Regions from separate parts of the Homo sapiens genome. Here region 2 is linked to region 1. The links come from fine-mapping of genetic effects on gene expression. A gene starts in region 1. The other region holds a variant in brackets. All regions are shown on one strand. Distances are between the middles of the regions. Region 1 holds the start of MADCAM1-AS1 (MADCAM1 antisense RNA 1). Region 2 holds the start of LOC124904608 (a long non-coding RNA gene).

Evidence for each region.
Region 2: its variant is fine-mapped to the expression of MADCAM1-AS1 in prefrontal cortex (BrainSeq, PIP 0.95). The same link has a PIP of 0.9 or more in putamen.

The regions. Positions count from the first base shown.
Region 1 is chr19:500,461-512,586 of GRCh38, forward strand. MADCAM1-AS1 (MADCAM1 antisense RNA 1) reads right to left here and starts at 7,429. Exons shown (of 3, transcript XR_936221.4): 1 at 6,916-7,429; 2 at 1,081-1,164. It overlaps MADCAM1 (mucosal vascular addressin cell adhesion molecule 1), which reads left to right. Exons shown (of 5, transcript NM_130760.3): 4 at 1,209-1,469; 5 at 4,285-4,883. The coding sequence ends at 4,505. TPGS1 (tubulin polyglutamylase complex subunit 1) reads left to right here and starts at 7,037. Exons shown (of 2, transcript NM_033513.3): 1 at 7,037-7,384. The coding sequence starts at 7,047. RefSeq lists enhancers at 6,113-6,970, 6,843-7,182, 10,020-10,319, 10,618-11,458, 11,459-12,126 and silencers at 6,183-6,312, 10,169-10,463.
Region 2 is chr19:482,572-492,647 of GRCh38, forward strand. It overlaps LOC124904608 (a long non-coding RNA gene), which reads left to right and starts at 6,595. Exons shown (of 2, transcript XR_007067072.1): 1 at 6,595-7,134; 2 at 7,295-7,499. It also overlaps a transcript of CIMAP1D not described here. RefSeq lists enhancers at 3,082-3,600, 6,906-7,407 and silencers at 6,235-6,864, 6,935-6,984. The variant A/G (reference allele first, on the strand shown) is at 5,935.

The DNA of each region.
Region 1 (12,126 bases):
GGCTCACGCCTGTAATCCCAGCACTTTGGGAGGCTGAGGTGGGTGGATTACCTGAGGTCAGGAGTTCAAGACCAGCCTGGCCAACATAGTGAAACCCCATCTCTATTAAAAATACAAAAATTAGATGTGGCCAGGTGCGGTGGCTCATGCTTGTAATCCCAGCACTTTGGGAAGCTGAGGTGGGTGGATCACGAGATTAGGAGATCGAGACTAGCCTGACCAACATGGTGAAACCCCGTCCCCTACTAAAAATACAAATATTAGCCTGGCGTGGTGGTGAGCGCCTGTAATTCCAGCTACTCAGGAGGCTGAGGCGGGAGAATCGCTTGAACCCGGGAGGCGGAGGTTGCAGTGAGCCGAGATCGCACCATTGCACTCCAGCCTGGGCAACAGAACGAGACTCCATCTCAACAACAACAACAAATTCTAGGCTTTATCAACTAGAACAGTAAGCCGAATAGAAACAAAAATGTAGGCCAGCCATGGGAGGCTGAGGCGGGAGGATCACTTGAGTACAGGAGTTCCAGACCAGCTTGGGCAACATACGAGACCTCCCATCTCTACAAAAAAATTTAAAAATTAGCTGGGCGTGGTATTGCACACCTGTGGTCCCAGCTACTCAGGAGGCTGAGTGGGGAGGATGGCTTCAGCCTGGGAGGTTGAGGCTGCAGTGATCCATGATCACAACACTGCACTCCAGCCTGCACGACAGAGTGAGACCCCATCTCTAAAAAAAAAAACCAGGCCGGGCGTGGTGGCTCACGCCTGTAATCCCAGCACTTTGGGAGGCCGAGGTGGGTAGATCACCTGAGGTTGGGAGTTCAAGGCCAGCCTGACCAACATGGAGAAACCCCATCTCTACTAAAAATACAAAATTAGCCAGGTGTGGTGGCAAGCGCCTGTGATCCCAGCTACTCCAGAGGCTGAGGCAGGGGAATCGCTTGAACCTGAGGAGCGGAGGTTGTGGTGAGCCAAGATTGCGCCACTGCACTCCAGCCTGGGTAACAAGAGCAAAACTCTGTCTCAAAAAAAAAAAAAAAAAAAAAAAAAAAAAAAAGAATAAATGGAAATGTGACTCACCAGAGTGGTCCAGGGAAGGGGCTTGGAGGGGTTCTGGTCCAAGCCCTTCATCCAGATGCGGAGATTGAGGCAGGAGAGGCAAGCCTGGGGCAGCAGAGAGGAAAAAAAAACCCTCACTCTGTTTCCAGTCCTGCACAGCCCGACCTCCCCGGAGCCTCCCGACACCACCTCCCCGGAGTCTCCCGACACCACCTCCCCGGAGTCTCCCGACACCACCTCCCAGGAGCCTCCCGACACCACCTCCCCGGAGCCTCCCGACAAGACCTCCCCGGAGCCCGCCCCCCAGCAGGGCTCCACACACACCCCCAGGAGCCCAGGCTCCACCAGGACTCGCCGCCCTGAGATCTCCCAGGCTGGGCCCACGCAGGGAGAAGTGATCCCAACAGGCTGTGAGTTCTGGTCCCTGGGGGCAGGGAGGGTGGGAAGGGCTGAGAGCGAGAGGTTCCTTGGATGAAGACTTTAGACAAGAAATTGCCCTGCCCAGCCTTGGTTTCCCCGTCTGCCCAGCCTCAGTTTCCCCGTCTGCCCAGCCTCGGTTTCCCCATCTGCCCAGCCTCGGTTTCCCCGTCTTTCCAGCCTCGGTTTCCCCATCTGCCCAGCCTCAGTTTCCTTGTCTGTCCAGTGGGCTTCTCTTAACTGTGGGTCCTTTTTGTAAACATCAGGGACTGTGTAGATGTCAAGGCACTTGGTAAATTCTAAGCCTTGTAGACTAGAAGAATCTTTGGAATAGAAGCAGAAACAATGCGGCCACATAGGTAATTTCTTTCCTTTTTTTTTGTGAGACAGAGTCTCGCTCTGTCCCCCAGGCTGGAGTGCAGTGGTGCAACCTCGACTCATTGCAACCTCCGCCTCCTGGGTTCAAGCGATTCTCCTGCCTCAGCCTCCTGAGTTGCTGGGATTACAGGCACCCATCACCACTCCCGGCTAATTTTTGTATTTTTAGTAGAGATGCGGTTTCACCATGTTGACCACGCTGGTCTCCAACTCCTGACCTGAGGTGATCTGCCCGCCTCGGCCTCCCAAAGTGCTGGGATTACAGGTGTGAGCCACTGCACCCGGCCCACATAGGTAATGTTAGAAATGCTTGTCCCCCAGTGCCACAAAGAAATAGCACTCAAACAAATTTAATTCTCTCAGCAAGGCCACTTTTACTTTCTGCAGAAAGGGTGCTCATTGTAGACGGAACAATGGCGAGAGCACAGCTGAACAAAGGAAAAGCAGACATATTTATCCCTCACACATTTGGGTCGCCCTTACTGCTGTGTCCTGCATCCACTGGCTGGAGCAGGATATCACACTCTTAAACTGATACCCAGTTTGCTAACAACCTAAAACTTTCCTAAGTAGGTAAGCGCAAAGGAGGACAAACAAGGAGAGGAAGTTGCTTACGAAAGATTTGAGGAAGCAGTAACATTTCCAAATAAGGAAGGGGCATAAGCTATGAGCTAAGACTTCCCTGGGACTCTCCAGATATGCCTGGGTAAGCCCAAGCAACTAACTGGGCTAAAGTGTAAGAACTAATAGCTGATAGGAGGCTTTAGAGTAAGAAGCTATTATTTCTAGTGTCTATGTCTATTATTTTATTTGTAAATCAAGACGAGCTTTGAAGAGGAACTTTTCTACTTCCTACAGGTAATTTCAAATTTAAAAGTAAAGGCAAGGCATGAACCCGGGAGGTAGAGCTTGCAGTGAGCCGAGATCGCGCCACTGCACTCCAGCCTGGGGCACAGAGCGAGACTCCATCTCAAAAAAAAAAATGGGCCGGGCACGGTGGCTTATGCCTGTAATCCCTGCACTTTGGGAGGCCAAGGCGGGCGGATCACGAGGTCAGGAGATCGAGACCATCCTGGCTAACACGGTGAAACCCCGTCTCCACTAAAAATACAAAAAATTAGCCGGGCGTGGCAGCGGGCGCCTGTAGTCCCAGCTACTCGGGAGGCTGAGGCAGGAGAATGGCGTGAACCTGGGAGGCGGAGCCTGCAGTGAGCCGAGATCGCGCCACTGCACTCCAACCTGGGAGACAGCAAGACTCCGTCTCAAAAAAAAAAAAAAAATTAAAAGTAAAAATAATGTGGTCGGGCCAAGCATGGTAGCTCATGCCTGTAATGCCAGCACTTTGGGAGGCCGAGGCAGGAGGATCACTTGAGCCCAGGAGGTTGAGGCTGCAGTGAGCTGAGATCACACCTGGGTGACAGAGCAAGACTCAGTCTCAAAAAAAAAAGTGTTGGCCAGACACGGTGGCTCATGCCTATAATCCTAGCACTTTGGGAGGCCAAGGAGGAGGATCACCTGAGGTCAGGAGTTCGAGACCAGCCTGGCCAACATGGTGAAACCTCATCTCTACTAAAAATACAAAAATTAGCCAGGTGTGGTGGCATGTGCCTGTAATCCCAGCTGAGGATTACTCGGGAGGCTGAAGCAGGAGAATCACTTGAACCCGGGAGGCGGAAGTGGCAGTGAGCTAAGATCACGCCATTGCACTCCAGCCTGGGGGACAGAGCAAGATTCCATTTCGAAAAAAAAAAAAAAGTGTGGTCATACATTTCGCAGAGCCCAATATATCCCAAGCATTATCATTTCAACAGGTAATCAATATAAAATAGTATGAAGGAGATATATTACATTCCTCCCTTTTCCCCAGACTAAGTCTTCAAAGTGCAGATTGTAGGCTCAGCACCCTTCATGGTGGTGAGCCGTCCTCTCTCCGGTCTGCCCTTTTTTTTTTTTTTTTTTTTTTTTGAGAGACAGAGTCTCATTCTGTCACCCAGGCTGGAGTGCAGTGGTGCGATCTCAGCTTACTGCAACCTCCACCTCCCGGGTTCAAGTGATTCTCCTGCCTCAGCCTCCCAAGTAGCTGGGATTACAGGCGCCTGCCACCATGTCCAGCTAACTTTGTATTTTTAGTAGGCACAGGGTTTCACCATGGTCAGGCTGGTCTCGAACTCCTGACCTCGTGATCCACCCGCTTTGGCCTCCCGAAGTGCTGGGATTTCAGGCGTGAGCCACCCCGCCTGGCCTGGACTGCCCATTTCTAAACTCTAAGGTGCTATGCGCATTTCAAAAGGGTCATGGTAAAGTCCTTTGTGAAATTTCAGGGAACGTGGTAACTTTGGAAGCACGTGTAGCCTCTGAGGGGCTCCTCCCTTCCCAAGCCTGCAGAGGCCTGGAGGGCTCTGACCGGGGTCTCCTGCACTCTCTCCCCAGCGTCCAAACCTGCGGGTGACCAGCTGCCCGCGGCTCTGTGGACCAGCAGTGCGGTGCTGGGACTGCTGCTCCTGGCCTTGCCCACCTATCACCTCTGGAAACGCTGCCGGCACCTGGCTGAGGACGACACCCACCCACCAGCTTCTCTGAGGCTTCTGCCCCAGGTGTCGGCCTGGGCTGGGTTAAGGGGGACCGGCCAGGTCGGGATCAGCCCCTCCTGAGTGGCCAGCCTTTCCCCCTGTGAAAGCAAAATAGCTTGGACCCCTTCAAGTTGAGAACTGGTCAGGGCAAACCTGCCTCCCATTCTACTCAAAGTCATCCCTCTGTTCACAGAGATGGATGCATGTTCTGATTGCCTCTTTGGAGAAGCTCATCAGAAACTCAAAAGAAGGCCACTGTTTGTCTCACCTACCCATGACCTGAAGCCCCTCCCTGAGTGGTCCCCACCTTTCTGGACGGAACCACGTACTTTTTACATACATTGATTCATGTCTCACGTCTCCCTAAAAATGCGTAAGACCAAGCTGTGCCCTGACCACCCTGGGCCCCTGTCGTCAGGACCTCCTGAGGCTTTGGCAAATAAACCTCCTAAAATGATACAAACGTGTCAGTTTTCTCAGTTGACACCCACTCCGTGGAGAGGAGAGGTCTGAGGGCTCCGGACAGCAGAGGGTTGACTGTGGGTCCTGCCCTGATGGCTCCATCTCCCTCATCCCACAGTCCGGGGCTGGAGAAGAAAGTGTTAGAAATGCTTGTTCCCCGGTGCCGTAAAGAAATAGCACTTGAATATAAATGTCATTTCCTCAGCAAGGCCACTGTTTTACTTTCTGCAGAAAGGGTACACTGGCCAGCAGTTTTGCCACGAGAGTATCCAGAACAAAGGAGACAGGGTCATTTATAACCTGACGCGTCCACCCTACTGCTCTGTCCGGTTTCCATTGGCTGGAACGGGACGGTTTCCATTGGCTGGAACGGGACCTCACATTCTGTATTTATCCCGATCGGCTAGCAGCTTGGAACTTTTAAAAAGAGGCAAAGGCAGAGGAGAACAAAGGAAGGAAGAAGTAGCTTGTGGAATGCTAAGAAAGGTAAAAACACCTTCAAATAAGGAAGAGGAACAGGTTATGACCTAATGCTTGCTTGGACCAGTATAAGCATGCCAGGGCAGATATTTAGCCTACATTGTGGGCACTAAGAACATAAAGTATGTTGATTTCCTTATTACATTATATATATTCAATATAACATTAACAATTAATTAACAAAGAATGTTAGCACAGGTCTTTTGTTTGTTTGTTTTTTGAGACAGAGTCTCGCTCTGTCGCCCAGGCTGGAGTGCAGTGGCGCGATCTCGGCTCACTTGCAAGCTCCGCCTCCCGGGTTCACGCCATTCTCCTGCCTCAGCCTCCCGAGTAGCTGGGACTACAGGCGCCCGCCACCACGCCTGGCTAATTTTTTGTATTTTTAGTAGAGACGGGGTTTCACCGTGTTAGCCGGGATGGTCTCGATCTCCTGACCTCGTGATCCGCCCGCCTCGGCCTCCCAAAGTGCTGGGATGACAGGCGTGAGCCACCGCGCCCGGCCTACCACAGGCCTTTGAATACATTTTGCTTCTAAGAGAAGTTACTATTTATTCCTAATTAGATGGGGAGGAAAGTCTCATTTGAAGAGGAACCTCTACTTCACGTTTTACAAAGGGCATTTGGTCTGCCCGCCAGAGATTCCTGTGCTGGGAGGATGGTGGAACGGTCCCCCGGCAAACAGCTCTCATTGCCCCCTGCCCGGGGCAACGCCCCTGAGGGACGGGGACGGCACCCAGCAAGCTCTGCCCGGGGCGGGGAAACGCGAGGGCTTAGTGGTTTCCTCGGTGAGAAGCTTAACCAGGAGTCCCCGAAAGCAGTGAGGGAAGATCCACAGAGGTCGCCTGGGGAAACACACCCAGAGGCGGCTTATGGAGGAGACTGCTTGTGTTTTGAGGTGGCTGCGGGCTGCGGAGGGTTGGGAGGGCCGGGAGGGCGGCCGGAAGCGAGGTCAGGCGATGAAGGCCTGGAGGTGCCAGCCCGGGGGCCCTGGAGAGCCATGGCAGAGTTTACAGCTCTGGAGGCTGCGGTGTCAGAAAGCTCCCTCTGGCGGTCAGGGGGTAACAGCGCGGGATGCTCGCCCGTGTGGCCGCCAATAGGGGCTCAGCGCAGCTGCAGCGGAGCTGGGGAGGGGGCTTCTCCCACGAGGTGAGCTACGCACTCAGACGTTGACTGAGTTAGGCGGAAGGCCAGGCTGAGCTCGACCCCCAGCACCAAGGCTCAGAGATGAACATGAGAAAAGGGTCTGGGGGCCGGGCGCGGGGCTGGGTCCAGCAGTCCTGGGCAGGTCCAGCCCCGCGCATGCTCCGTCAGGCTTCTCTGCTAACCAGGGAGACTGGTTGCTAGGAGACCATGCTAATGAAGGACTCGCTCACTACCCAAATGGCAAGCAATCCGGCTTTGTGCCAGAAACGAAGCACTTCCGAGGCAGCCATTTTGGAGTCTGGCAAAATTCAGGACCGAGGCCAAAGCCAGGAGAGCCAATCAATATACACAAAGAGGGAGGAGAAGAGAGAGTGCCAATAAGGACACAAGGAAAGTGGTAGCGTACCCTTGTCACTTCCCAAAGTCTCCCAGCGGGATACCGGTGCCCTCTGCCCTTAATCAAGATGGCCGCCTTGGGGGGGCTCTAGCGCACAGTGGAATATGGCGGTGCTTCCGGTCCCGCTGCCCTCAGCGAAGATGGCGGCAGTGGAGAAGCGGCGGCAAGCGGTACCACCGCCGGCCGGTTTCACGGACAGCGGCCGCCAGTCGGTATCCCGGGCGGCGGGGGCGGCCGAGAGCGAGGAGGACTTCCTGCGGCAGGTCGGCGTGACGGAAATGCTACGTGCGGCCCTGCTGAAGGTGCTGGAGGCGCGGCCCGAGGAGCCGATCGCCTTCCTGGCTCACTACTTCGAGAACATGGGCCTGCGCTCGCCTGTAAACGGCGGCGCCGGGGAGCCCCCGGGCCAGCTCCTGCTGCAGCAGCAGCGCCTGGGCCGCGCGCTATGGCACCTTCGCCTGGCCCACCACTCCCAGAGGTGCGCAGTGGGCCGGCTTGGGCGGGTGGGGCAGCGATGGACTTCAACTCCCAGCATGCCGCGCGCGGCTCCCTACCCGCAGCGCCGGCGCAGGGGCCCGGGGCTTGCTGGGAGTTGTAGTGCGCGATGCCTTCTTGGGTGGGATGGATCGGACAAGGTGGGCTGGAGGGTCCGGGCTTCGGTCCGGCGCTAGGCAGCGCGCTGCATGCGGCGCGAGTCCTTCTGGCCGGCTTCGCCTTCTGTGATGCCTTTTTGCAGGTGCTGAGTTTCCCCTTGCAGTTCATGATTTTCAAAATCGTGCAGCTCAAGAGGACTTGGCCCGAGGTCGCAGAGCCAGCCCCCGAGCCAGGTCCTCCTAGTCGCCTCCTTAGCAGCCTCATGTTATCCCCGTCCATTCAGCCAGAACGTGAATATTTACAGAGAGCAGCGCAGTCACCCAGGGCCCCCATCTTAGGGGACAGGCTCCCAGCGGGCAGGTGGGGATTCCTGGAAGAGCCTGGCGATGTGCGGGCGGGTTGCAGGGAAGAGGCCCAGCAGGTGCAAATTTAGACCCCGAGTGTGGGGCACACGGGAGGCGGGAAAGCCACGGAATTTGGCTGAAGCATGCGAGGCTGCAGGTGCCTACGCGCGGTGTCCCCTGGCTGGGGCCAGTTCTGAGCCCAGGGAAGGTGGTTGGGGACTATCTGTTGGCGTTGGGGATGGATGGGCTGATGTCTTTTGTTGGGGGGGGGGTCCCCAGAAGCGGAGCCTGAGGTAGGCATTGTGTGTGCAGGTGATTTTACAAGGGGGTGCGCCCAAGAGAACCCAGGAAGGGGGTGGGAAGAGCAGGCAGGGAAGGATGCCAAGCAAAGGTGCCCTTTCAGCCTCATAACCAGGGCATAAGCGCCCACCATGGCAGCCCTCGCCAGAGTCCCAGAGAAGTTCGGGGGGAGAAGAGAGATGGGGAGTGTCCCCCCTACCACGTTCAGGGTGCACAGGTGTCCAAGATCATACTCAGATAAGGGTGGCAGGGTGTTGGGTACCTGGACAAGGAGCAGACTTGCTCCGGTGGCCCAGTGGCTCTGAAGGCCCCGCCCGATGATTTGCTGGAGCCAGGTGGGAGGGGAGCGGGCAAGGGCAGGCCCAGAGGGTCAGTGGAGCCGTTTACTGCGATGGAAGGCCCCTGGTTTGAAGAAGCTGCCAGAGCCACTTGCGGATTAAGTTGGAGGCTGGGAGGAGCCTGGAGACAGGAAGGTAGAAAGAAGCGTCTGCAACTGACGTGGGGCCAGGACAGAAGACTGAACTGGAGGGGTCCTGAAGTCTTCAGGAGAGATGAGAAGAGCTCAGGACCCCACTCTGAGGGCACCTAGCCCAGAGAGCCCACCAGAGAGGGTGAGAACGTGAGACCAGAGGTGAACGGGGAGCAGGAGGAAGATGGCCTCCCAGGACATCCGGAAGAGAATCTCCCAAGGAGGAAAAGGGGTCAACAGCAGGCCCACCACGTATGGTTGTTCAGGTTGAGCACTGCACAAGCCACTCACCCCGTAGACACTGCAGATGAGGATATTTATATTTATATTAATTTCCGAGGGCTGCTGGAACAAATTACCTCCAACTTAGTGGCTTAAAACAACAGAAATTTATTCTCTCACAGTTCTGGAGGGCAGAAGTCTGAAATCGGAGTGTCAGGAGGACCACACTCCCTCTGGAGGCTCCAGGGAAGGAGCCTTCCTTGCCTCCCCAGCCTCCAGTGGCGGCCAGCAGTCTTTGGCTTGTGGCCACATTGCTGCAGTCTCTGCCTCCGTCGTCACGTGGCCTCCTGTGTGTCTCTGTTCTGTGTTCCCTCATAAGGACACCACTAGGCCCCACCCTACTCCAGTGTGACCTCAACCGCCTACATCTGCAAAGCTGCTGTCTCAAATAAGCTCTCAGTCTGAGGTTCTGGATGGGCGTGAGTTTGGTGGGCACCAGTCACCCCAGGACAGGAGTGGAGCCATTGGCTGGAAGAGTTCTCATAGCAGGGACTCAGGGCAAGGGTGGTGCTGGTGGCAGATGCATCCCGGCCCTGGGCTCGCCTGGGCTCCCCAGAGACACAGCCAGTGGGGAATGCAGAAGACAGGTGCACAGACCTGCGTGGCATCTGATTCTGTGCTCATGGAGCCAGGCCTGCTCCCGTCCTCCCAGCAGGCAGCTCCGGCCGCCCCTCCATCCTTGGACCGTCAGGAACCCCTGAGGTCACCTGACCAGTCAGGAAGAGAAGCCCAGAGCAGCCGGGCGCGGTGGCTCACGCCTGTCATCCCAGCACTTTGGGAGGCCGAGGCGGGCGGATCACAAGGTCAGGAGATCGAGACCATCCTGGCTAACACGGTGAAACCCCGTCTCTACTAAAAATACAAAAAATTAGCCGGGTGTGGTGGCGGGCGCCTGTAGTCCCAGCTACTCGGGAGGCTGAGGCAGGAGAATGGCATGAACCCAGGAGGCGGAGCTTGCATTGAGCCGAGATCGCGCCACTGCACTCCAGCCTGGGCGACAGAGCGAGACTCTGTCTCAAAAAAAAAAAAAGAGAAGCTCAGAGCCTGGCAGATTTGTCCCCACTCAGTCCAGTGTGTTGACCCCCAAAGGCTGAGGGGCTGACTGGGGCTGCTCCTGAGAGCATCACCGTGGTAGGCTGGGGGAGAAGTCACCCCAGATCCTCCCTGGCACCTTCTTTTGAGAAATGGCAAGCTCCGGCCGCCAGGGCTGGTGATGGCAGCCACAGTGTCCCCCTCCTGCCACCTTCCTGGTCGTCTCCAAGGCCCCCTGGAGCACACACACAGACGTTACATGACTTGCTGAAGGCCACACGGCCACCGAGGGCAGAGCTGGGGTCAGAGAGCCCCAGAGTGCAGCCCCGGAGGCCTCCTCAGCCACCACGTTGCTCATCCTGGCAGCAAGGGCTGCACTGCCCCCTGCAGGTCACTGCCAGGAAAACGTGCACGAAAACGAAGCCCCAGCTGATCTGGGCCAGGGTTCCCCCGACTCGTCCTCTGGGGGCCGTCCTGGGTACTGCAGGGCCCTGAGCAGCGTCCCTGGCCTCCACCCACTCCTTGCCAGGAGCTCCCCGAGTCGTGACAACCACAGATGTCCCAGACACCGCCCGGCGTCTGCTGGGGGCAGGAGTGGGAAGCAGAAGTCTAAGGTGTAGGGTGGCTCCTGTCTCTTTCTGGAGACGTTCCATAAATAGAATCTTTCCTGTATTAACAAATGCTCACACGCCTTACAAACCGCTCTGTGTAGGAGCCGACACAGACGGAGCCCTGGCTGGGCTCCCGCTTTCCATTTTGCAATCAGGGAAACCAAGGCCCAGAGGCCACCGTCACAGGCAGAGCTGACGTTCCAGCCCCGGCCTCCTCCTCCGAGCCCAGAGCTTGCTGCCTTCCTCTTCCTCCTCCTCCCTCACCCGATGATTCTGCTGGGAGCCGCCCGGGAGCCCAGGAGGGGCGGGTATGCGGCCGCCTTGAAGTGGGCTGTCACCTTCCTGTCTCCTGCCGTCATCATGGCTGTGATCTCACCAGGCTGTAATTACCTCTTTGTGTGTCTTCCTGCCCCTCAAGGCAGCTGTGGCTGAGCTGCAGCCCTAATTACAGCCCAAAATAAGCAGGTGGGGCCTCCCACACGTATGCCAGCTGCTGTCCTGAGCACCTGGCTCCAGCCCCGTTCTCCCGTCCTCACAAGAACCCCCACTCCGTAGATGCACAAGGCCAGGTGCAGAAAAGGAGAGTGCACACAGCTGGGAGGGGCAGACGAACACCCGAGGCAGGCCTGGGCCAGGCACAGAGCCCTGCACACCGAGGGGCCGCGTGGATGCTTGCGGAGCTGGACCAGGGCTGCCGCCCCCAGAGAGGAGAGCATTTATGCAGAAGTGGTGGTGGATGGCGCTGGGTAATCCCGGCCCACAGACCTGTCAGTCAGAAGCTGCGAGCACGACAGGAACCAACAACCCCAAACCTCAGTGGCTTCAACACAAGCAAAACTCTTCTCGCTTACTCTGCAGGGGACGTCCAGTTGTTTTTTTGTTGTTTTTTTTGAGATGGAGTCTGGTTCTGTCACCCAGGCTGGAGTGCAGTGGCGCGATCTCGGCTCACTACAAGTTCCGCCTCCTGGGTTGACGCCATTCTCCTGCCTCAGCCTCCCGAGTAGCTGGGACTACAGGCGCCCCCACCACACCCGGCTAATTTTTGTATTTTTAGTAGAGACGGGGTTTCACCATGTTGGCCAGGCTGGTCTTGAACTCCTGACCTCAAGTGATCCACCCGCCTCGGCCTCCCAAAGTGCTGGGATTACAGGCATAAGCCACTGTGCCTGGCCCAGTTTTCTTTTTGAGCCAGGGTCTTGCTGTCACGCAGCCTGCAGTGCAGTGGTGCAATCCCAGCTCACTGCAGCCTCGACCGCCTGGGCTCAAGGGATCCTCCCACCTCAGCCTCCCAAGTACCCGGGACCACAGACGCACGTCACCACACCTGGCTGATTTTTAAATTTTTGTAGAGACAGGATCTCACTATGTTGCCCAGGCTGGTTTCGAACTCCTGGACTCAAGCAATCCTCCTGCCTCGGCCTCCCAAAGTGCTGGGCTCACAGGCAGGAGCCACGGCACCCCCACCCACCCCCCACCAAGGGCTTGTCTGATCTTGACACGCACCTGCAATCATGACCACAGAGAAGTGGACTGAGAAGTAGCACGATGGCTCTTAACATTCCCGCTGAAAGTGGGCCACGCCCCCTCG
Region 2 (10,076 bases), 19 kb before region 1:
ATCGCCTACTGCATACAGGGTGAGATCGGCAGGGCGTCCTTGGCATACAGCAGATTACTCATGCAGAACGGCTCTGCTGCCAGCTCTGTGCTCACAGGCGCCACCCCACGAGCTGTTCCATGCCTATCACCATGGACAGAGGCGGAGGTCACAAAGCCAGCAGGAGTGTGGACCTAGGACTCAAGTCCAGAATGTTCTTGGCCCTGCACTGTCCTGCCCACCTACACCTGCCAGTCTGAATGTCACCCACCCTGGCCGCCATCATACGAGCACCCCAGCCCCGCCCCTCGACGGGCACCGAGGCTATTCCCACTTCACCTCCTTTACAATTTCCTGCAGTGAACTTCCCAGGCAGACCTCCTGCGCCCATGAACCAGGGTTTCTGGATTAGACACTGTGTGGTCCCTGATGAATCACTGCACCACTGTGCATGTGTTTCCTCCTCTGAAAAACGGGCATATGTCAGCCTGACTCCACAGGGTCACTCTGAAGACAAGGGCATCTGGCCCCTTATCATTCAAACATCCTCTTCCAGCCTTCCCTCACTCCAGCAAATGGCACCTCCAGACCCATGCTGACTTGGATCCAAACCCCTGGGGCCGCTTCCTGGATCCAAAGCCCACTCAGCAGCTGACTGCTGCTCTCCACCTCACAGCCACGGCCCAGTCCAGGGCCCCATCCCCCCCCAACACCCACCCCCACCTCCTCAGGGATCCCTGGGACGCCTCTCCCAGCCCCAAAAGGCCACTCTATGTCAGCCAGAGCCAGCTCTTCAGACATGACCATGGGAAGCCCTACAGACGCCCATCCTGGCTGCCACTGCGTCTAGCACAGGCTCCTCCCCGACAGACCTCCACCTGCCTGAGTTCCCTCACCACTCCCCCAGGCATGCAGGCTCACCCTCGTTCCAGTGACACGGAGCTATGAGATCATGGTGGGCTGAAATCAACAGACCAGGGGTTCCCAACCCAGGTGATTGCCCCCAGGGGACGCTGGGCAGTGTCCAAGGACACCTGTGGTCGTCACGACTGGGGGAGCTCCTGGCATGGGGTGAGTGGGGGCAGGGATGCCGCTAGGCACCCTGCAGTGGCCGGGACCACCCCACCTGGGATGTCCACAGGGCCTGCGGAAGACCCTGCAGCAGAGAGCCATCAGCTCTTCCTCTCATGGGTCCCCGGAAGCTCTGGGATCAATCAATCCCCATGGGGCCGGCTCTGGGATCAACACTGTGTCCCCAGCTCCCCGGAAGCCCCTGCAGCCATCTTCCTTCCCTCTACCTGTCAGCCGCCATCCTGCCTGTAAAGCCAGGCCCCGCTTTGCCTCTTCTGTGCGGCACGGGAAGGGGACGGTGCACTCATGAGACCTCCCACCCTGCCTGTGAGATCAGTCCTGGTGTGGGTGACAGCTGTCCATCACTCACTTCTGTTGCTGGGCAACGTTCCATCCCATGAAGATGCCATGATTTACTCAGAGCTTCTAGGCTGCTTCTAGCTCGGAACAACCGCAAATAATGCTGTGAACACATGTCTCTCTTGTTTTATTTATTTTTTTCTTTTCTTTTCTTTTTCTTTTTTTTTTTTTTTTTTTGAGACAGAGTTTCACTCTTGTCACCAGGCTGCAGTGCAATGGCGCGATCTTGGCTCACCACAATCTCTGCCTCCCGGGCTCAAGCGATTCTGCTGCCTCAGCCTCCTGAGTAGCTGGGATTACAGGTGTGCGCCACCACGCCCGGCTAATTTTTGTATTTTTAGTAGAGACGGGGTTTCTCCATGTTGGTCAGGCTGGTCTCGAACTCCTGACCTCAGGTGATCCGCCCGCCTTGGCCTCCTAAAGTGCTGGGATTACAGGCATGAGCCACCGCGCCTGGCCTCTTGTTTTATTTTTGACACAGGGTCTCATTCTGTGCTCAGGCTGGAGTGTGCAGTGACGTGATCACAGAAAGGAAACCTCAGAGCAGAGTTGGGTCTTCACATACGGTGGCCAGGAAGGCCCCCTGAAGAGGTGAAACGTTAGCAAAGGCCTGGAGGAAGTCAGGACCTCTAAGGGATGCCCAGCTGTGCAGACATCTACGGGGTGTCTGGGGAGGGCACCGCTGTGCAAAGGCCCTGGGGCAGGACCGCACCTGGCGAGGCGGAGGAGCGAGGAGGAGGCCAGGGTGGCTGCCGCAGGGTGAGGAGGGGAGAGCAGGAGGAGGGAGGGCGGGGCTGACCCAGCAGGTCGTGAAGGGCCCTGAGGACACGGAGAGGACACAGGGTTTTACCCTGAGCAGGGTGGGAGCCACGGAGGCCTCTGCTGGAGCAGAGGAGGGCACGGCCTGAATTGGGTTTGAAGGAATCGACTGAGGGTAGGAAGGTGGGGGTAGGGAAGCCCGGGGGAGGCGAGCACACCAGCCCAGGTGGGCACCACGGGGCCTGGGCTGGGGGCTGCTGTGGGATGGTCAGGAGTGGGTGGGTTCTGGGCCTGTCTTGAAGGCAGAACTCACAAGATTTTCTGAGACGCTGTGGGGTGAAGGGGAGTGAGAGGAGGGGAGGGTCCTGGAAGGGCGGGTGCAACCTCAACCCAGCGGAGGACCCTGCTGACCTGCTTAGTTGTTTATGGAGGGTCATTGCCGTGCTCTACCACGTAACACACGTACACACACACACACAGGTGCACGTTTACACCACGTGGGTGCGCACGATGAGGCACACACAGGCAGGCGCGCACACACACGCGTGCTCACATAGGAACACGAAGAGGCAGGAGCCGGGCGTGCCCGAGCCCCGTGGCGCCCTGGGCATCCCAAACACCGCCTGCCCAGAACAGGTGCGCAGTGAGTGCCTGCTGAGCCAGTGAGTGGAATGAAGCTCTACAATAGTCCAGATGACAGACATGACTGCTGTGGCTGCTGCCGATCCAAGTCCCACCGTTCTTTTCTCTAGAGACAAGGTCTCACTCCACCATCCAGGCTGGCGCGATCACAGCTCACTGACGGTGGAGAAGGGTGATCAGAGAATGGTGGGAATGAGGCGGCCCTGACCTCCTGGGGTTAGCGATCCTCCCACCTCAGCCCCCTAAAGCACCGGGAGGGCAGGTGTGAGCCACGGTGCCAGCCCCAAGTTCCCGACATTCTTTCCTAAAACACATCCTCCGGCTGCAGATGAGGGTGCGACAGCTGGGAGGCAGCTCCCAGGAGGCCGGGTTCCTCCGATGACCTGCTGTTTCTGTGTCCCTGGCACACGGCACAGCAGGAGAGGGGGAGGCCAGGTGTTTGTGGCTGCTGCCACCGGCCCGTCCAGGGTCAGCTCATGCTCCCAGCCTCCGTGATCTGCCACTCCCCACTTCCCTGAGGCTGCTCACTGCTGTCCTTTGTCCGGCGGCCAGCCCCCTGACTCAGACTCACGCGCCCTGCTGCTGCCCGCCCCTTTGTTCCCGGGAGACTCTAACAAGGAAGGCTTGTTCTTCCCGCAAGGACACAGAGAACCTGCCAGCTCCCCTCCATCCTCATCCAGAGAGAGCCTGCTGTCCCCGTGGGACAGTGAGGACAGGACCAGCTCTCAGGCTCTGCTGGGCACCCAGCCCATGCCTGGCAAGTCCTCATGTTACAGACGAGGACACCGAAGCTCAGAGGAAGGAAGGGCTTGTATTCCGAGGATTTGGGGGGCTGGAGAGGGGTCCTAGTGGGCTCTGCTGTAGCCTGCAAGGTCCTACAAGCCCAGGTCCTTCCTGCCCTCTCTGGCTGCGTTGGTCCCTCCGGACTCAGCCTCTGCACTCACCGTACATTCTGCCTGATACACCCGGTCCAACTCCCTCCCCCTCCAGGAAGGCCTTGCTCAAATCTCTCCACCTCCAGGATCTTCCTTGGACCACTGATTGATTGATTGATTTTTTGTTTCTGTTGTTTTTCTGAGATGGAGTCTTGCTCTATCACCCAGGCTGGAGGGTAGTGGCGCAATCTCGGCTCACTGCAACCTCCGCCTGGTGGGTTCAGGCGATTCTCCTGCCTCAGCCTCCCAAGTAGCTGGGATTACAGGCGCCCGTCACCACACCCAGCTAATTTTTGTCTTTTTTAATAGAGATGGGGCCGGGAGCGGTGGCTCACGCCTGTAATCCCAGCACTTTGGGAGGCTGAGGCGAGCAGATCACGAGATCAGGAGATCGAGACCATCCTGGCTAATACAGTGAAACCCCGTCTCTACTAAAAATACAAAAAATTAGCCAGGCGTGGTGGCAGGCGCCTGTAGTCCCAGCTACACAGGAGGCTGAGGCAGAAGAATGACGTGAACCCGGGAGGCGGAGCTTGTAGTGAGCCGAGATTGTGCCAGTGCACTCCAGCCTGGGCGACAGAGCAAGACTCCATCTCAAAAAAAAGAAGGAAAGAAATAGAGATGGGGTTTCACCATGTTGGCCAGGCTGGTCTCAAACTCCTGACCTCAAGTGATCCGCCCACCTCAGCCTCCCAAAGTGCTGGGATTACAGGTGTGAACCGCCATGCCCGGCCTATCGGGACCACAGATTTGATCCTGCAACCTGCCTATCATCATGCTGCCTGCCCCCTTCCCTGCCTTTTCCTTCTTCCCAGCAGCACTCTCCACGCCTCACCTATTGCAGCGGCGGCTGGAGCTGCTCATGCCAGCTCCTGAGCCCACTGTGAAGTTCGCGGCGATCTGTGAGCTGGTTGGCTCATGTTGGCAGCCACGATGGGAGTATTTACAACACAGGGGGCGGCGTGCGCTGCAAGTGAGGGCCTTTTCCCTTGGAGAGCCAGCTGTTCAACATTTCTCCGCACAGCACCACTTCGGTATTATGCCCGAGGTTTATGGCATAACTAGCCTGGCTCATGGTCTCTCTTCCCTGCTGCTCACTAGAATGTAAGCTCCTTCGGGCCGAGGTCAGCCCACCTTGCACTCTGCTGTCTCCTTGGCACTTAAAACAACGCTTGGCATACAGCAGGCACTCAATAAAGATGTGCTGGCAGGGCGCATGACGTGTGCCTGTGGTCCCAACACTTTGGAAGGCCGAGGCGGGAGGATTGCTTGAGCTCAGGAGGCGGAGGTTGCAGTGAGTGGAGATCGCACCACTGCGCTCCAGCCTGGGCCACAGAGTGAGACCCTGTGTCAAAATAATAACAAGCATGAGGCAGGGGGGATCAGCTGAGGTCAGGAGTTCGAGACCAGCCTGGCCAACATGGTGAAACTCTATTAAGGGAGGAGACCATCCCTCATATTGTCTTATGCCCAATTTCTGCCTCCAAAGAAAGAAGTAAAAACTAAAAGGCAGAAATGAAATCCACAGGCAGACAGCCCGGCGCTGTGCCCTGGGCCTGGTAGTTAAAGAGCGACCCCTGACCTACTGGGTTACGTTATCTATAGATTCCAGACATTGTATGGAAAAGCACTGTGAAAACCCTTGTCCTGTTCTGTTCCGATCTGATTGCCGGTGCATGCAGCCCCCAGTCACGTACCCCCTGCTTGTTCAATCGATCACGACCCTCTCACGCGGACCCCCTGAGAGTTGTGAGCCCTGAAGAGGGACAGGAATTGCTCACTCGGGGAGCTCGGCTCTTGGGACAGGAGTCTTGCCGATGGCCCCGGCCGAATAAACCGCTTCCTTCTCTAACTGGGTGTCTGAGGAGTTTTGTCTGCGGCTCTTCCTGCTACACTATCTCTACTAAAAATACAAAAAAAAAAGGCCGGGCTTGGTGGCTGAAGCCTGTAATCCCAGCTCCTCGGGAGGCTGAGGCGGGCAGATCACGAGGTCAGGAGATCGAGACCATCCTGGCTAACACGGTGAAACCCCGTCTCTACTAAAAATACAAACAATTAGCCGGGCGTGGTGGCAGGCGCCTGTAGTCCCAGCTACTCGGGAGGCTGAGGCAGGAGAATGGCGTGAACCCGGGAGGCGGAGCTTGCGGTGAGCCGAGATGGCGCCACTGCACTCCAGCCTGGGCGACAG[A/G]GCGAGACTCCGTCTCAAAAAAATAACAAGTAAATCAGTGTGGAACTAACGAGCGCCCTCGTCCCTCGCGCTGCTGGGACTGACGTCCGGGTACCCCCAACGCAACCACGGCCTCCCGGTGACCCTGACCCGCGAAGCGGGCCGGAAGCCCCGCAGCCCCTACTCCAGAATCCGCGTCCCGGAACCTGGATCCCCGACCGGGCCCTGCGGCCCCGACCCCCGCAGCGAGCCCAGCGCCGGGGAACAGGACCCGGCTTCCCAGTCTCCGCCCGGGGACACCAGGCTCCTTGGGCGAACGGCCAGGCCTCCCGGGACCAGCGCGCTGGAAGACTCGCGGCGGGGACGCCCCCTCGGCCGCCCCGTGCCGGGCCCCACGCAAGGGCAGCCGGGGCGCCCCGCAGTGGGAACGCGAGGAGACCGACCACGGGGCGAGACAGCCGCCAGGGCGTCCGCGCCGCCCGCCCCAAGCCCGCATCAGCCCGCCACGAACTCGGAGGACCGCGGGCTAGAGCGGCCCCGCCAGCGCGCAAAGCCTTGTGGGCCACACGCCCCGGCGCCCCGCGCTCCGCGGCATGGCGGGAGTTGTGGTTCAGCTGCGGGGGCCGCGCGGGAGCTGCCGGGAGCTGTGGGCGGGGTGGGTGCGCGCGCAGTGGCAGGGCCAGTGAGCTGCACCCGCGGAAAAGGAGGGGGAGCGGCTGGTCAGCTGCGCCCTGCGGGTCGAGAATGTCATCAGCAGGGATGGCGGCGCTTTGAGTGCTGAGCGCGGCCCCGACCGGGACCCCCTACCCTTGACCCACCCTCGCAGGCCGAGCCCCGACTCCCGACCCGCCGTCGCAGCCCGCGGCCCCGACCTCTGACCCGCCCTCGCAGCCCGCGGCCCCGACCTCTGACCCGCCCTCCCAGCCAGACCCTCTACGCCCGACCCGCCCTCGCAGCCCATGGCCCATCGGCCCGGCAGTGGACGCAGAGCCTCGGCCCCGTTCCCTCCCCGGACCCCCCGGACCCGCTCTCCGTCCTCCCTGCAGAGCCGAGGGCCTTGGCCCAGCCCCGCATCCTCCCCGACCGTGCTCGATCCAGCCCGGGTGTGCTGCACCCGAAACAGGCTCCCGGGGGCCGTCGGGCCTGTGGGTGACCGTGCAGGCCAGGATCTCCCCCTTCCCAGTCGTGACAACCACAGATGGCCCCAGATGCCACGTTAGGGTTAGTGCCTCCTGGGGGCGGGATTGCGGCCGGGGGAGAACCACCCTCCCAACCCGTTAGGAACTGCAGGGACGGAGAGCGCGCTCGGGATGTCCAGCACTCAGCGCGGGTTGGGTGGCGAATGGAGAGCGAGTCGTCCTCAGAGGCCGCCGGCCTGCAGGCGAGAACCCTCCCAGCCAGGAGGCTGCGGCTCTGCCTGAACCCCGACCCAGGGCGAACACCCACATTTGGCCCCTGCCCGGTGCTGAGAGAGGCCAGAGCGGCGTCCCCAGAAGCGGAGCGGGAGCCCCACGTCCGGCGGCCACGATAGAAAGAAGAAAAGAAATGGGTGGTAGTAAGTAAAATAAATCGTATGAAACATAAAACAAGGCCGGGCGCGTTGGCTCACGCCTGTAATCCCAGCACTGTGGGAGGCCGAGGCAGGTGGATCACCTGAGGTCAGGAGTTTGAGACCAGCCTGGCCAACATGGCAAAACCTCGTCTCTACTAAAAATACAAAAATTAGCCGGGCGTGGTGGCGCATGCCTGTGGTCCCACCTACTTGGAAGGCCGTCACAGTAGAATCACTTGAACCCGTGAGGTGGAGGTTGCAGTGAGCCGAGATAGCACCACTGTACTCCAGCCTGGGCGACAAGAGTGAAACTCCAGCTAAAAAAAAAAGAAAGAAAGAAACGTAAAACAAAGATGTATCTTTATCTTATTTAATCCACTGTGTCCAAAATACTATCCTTTCGATTCATAAGCAATACATGTTGAGATGCTGTACACTCTTTGTTCACGCTGAGCGTTCAGAGCCCAGTGTGTATTTTGCACATTTGTGTCCACTTCCTAATTCTCACAGGAAATATTCAACCTGCACTTCAGGCCACTAAAGTTCTAGTTGGAAAAGTGGCTTCACAAACCCTAGCTGTTGCACATGTTTTCCAATAGCTGCGTCCGTTTCTAAGTTGATATTCGTGTTAGAAAGGAGGCTTCAGGGCCAGGCGCGGTGGCTGACACCTGTAATCCAGCACTTTGGGAGCCCAAGGTGGGCAGATCACTTGAGGTGGGGAGTTCAAGACCAGCCTGACCAACATGGGGAAACCCCGTCTCTATTAAAAATACAAAAATTGGCCAGGCGCGGTGGCTCACGCCTGTAATCCCAGCACCTTGGGAGGCCAAGGCGGGCGGATCACCTGAGGTCAGGCGTTTGAGACTAGCCTGACCAATATGGTGAAACCCTGTCTCTACTAAAAATGCAAAAGTTAGCTGGGCGTGGTGGCAGGCGCCTGTAGTCCCAGCTACTCCGGAGTCTGAGACAGAATTGCTTAAACCTGGGAGGCAGAGGTTGCAGTGAGCTGAGATCGTGCCACTGCACTCCAGCCTGGGTGACAGAGTGAGGCTTTGTCTCAAAAAAAAAAAAAAAGTCTACAAATACAAAACTTACCTGAGCATGGTGGCACGTGCCTATAATCCCAGCTACTCAGGAGGCTCAGGCGGGAGAATCGCTTGAACCCAGGAGGCGGAGGTTGCAGTGAGCCAAGATCTCACCACTGCACTCCAGCCTGGGCGACAGAGTGACTCCGTCTCAAAAAAAAAGAAGGCTTTTAAAGAAACAGTTTAGTGCCCTTTATGGTGTTTGCGACGTCGTGTAAACACCAGCTCTCTAGTCTCAAACCCGGCGAGGGCGGTTCATAGACAATTTCAGTCTCTCGACGCGACGCCGTGTGGCTTGTGCCCTTCTAGCCACCTAGACCCTCGGGAGAGGCCTGTGCGGCTCCTGGCTGGGCCCCCGTCTTCAAAGCAGCTTTTGAGTGGCCCTTTGACCCGTGAGACAGGGCCGTGGAAGCTGGGGTGAGCCTGGAGATGCCCCCGGGAGCACCAAGGCGTCAGAGCAGCTGACCAGGGCCCCAGGCCTCGCCGCTTCCCCAGGCAGAGCCGGCCCCAAGCCCCGCCTCTCCCCTGGGCGGAGCCAGCCCCAAGCCCCCCTCCCCTGGGCGGAGACAGCCCCAGGCCCCGCCTCTCCCCTGGGCGGAGCCAGCCCCAAGCCCCCCCTCCCCTGGGAGGAGACAGCCCCAGGCACCGCCTCTCTCCTGGGCGGAGCCAGCCCCAAGCCCCCCCCTCCCCTGGGCGGAGACAGCCCCAGGCACCGCCTCTCCCCTGGGCGGAGCCAGCCCCAAGCCCCCCCTCCCCTGGGAGGAGACAGCCCCAGGCACCGCCTCTCCCCTGGGCGGAGCCAGCCCCAAGCCCCCCCTCCCCTGGGAGGAGACAGCCCCAGGCACCGCCTCTCTCCTGGGCGGAGCCAGCCCCAAGCCCCCCCCTCCCCTGGGCGGAGACAGCCCCAGGCACCGCCTCTCCCCTGGGCGGAGCCAGCCCCAAGCCCCCCCTCCCCTGGGAGGAGACAGCCCCAGGCACCGCCTCTCCCCTGGGCGGAGCCAGCCCCAAGCCCCGCCTCTCCTCTGGGCGGAGCCAGCCCCAAGCCCCCCTCCCCTGGGCGGAGCCAGCCCCAGGCCCCGCCTCTCCCTGGGCGGAGCCAGCCCCAAGCCCCCCCTCCCCTGGGCGGAGCCAGCCCCAAGCCGGCTCTCACCATAGTGTGCCTCCTGCCCCATGGACCCCCATCCCCCCAGACCCCTCCTGATTAGCTCAGGTGGGGCTGCCGTGGAGACCACACCAGCATCATCGCCTGAGGCTCCATGTCCAATTTCCCCGGGGCTGCTGGAGACTGAGCACTGCCCCAGCCCCTCACCAGGCGGTCACTGACCCCAGGGAGGCCTGTCAGCTCTGCCCAGGCTCAGCGACGTGGTCAGCTCGGCCAGCCTGCGGGGAGGGACTCGACTCGGACAAGGGTTCCTTCAGGGACCTGTGCCAGGTGGGCCACGAAGATCCTTCCTTCCTCCTTTTTTTTTTTTTTTTTTTTTTTTTTTGAGACAGTCTTGCTCTGTCGCCCAGGCTGGAGTGCAATG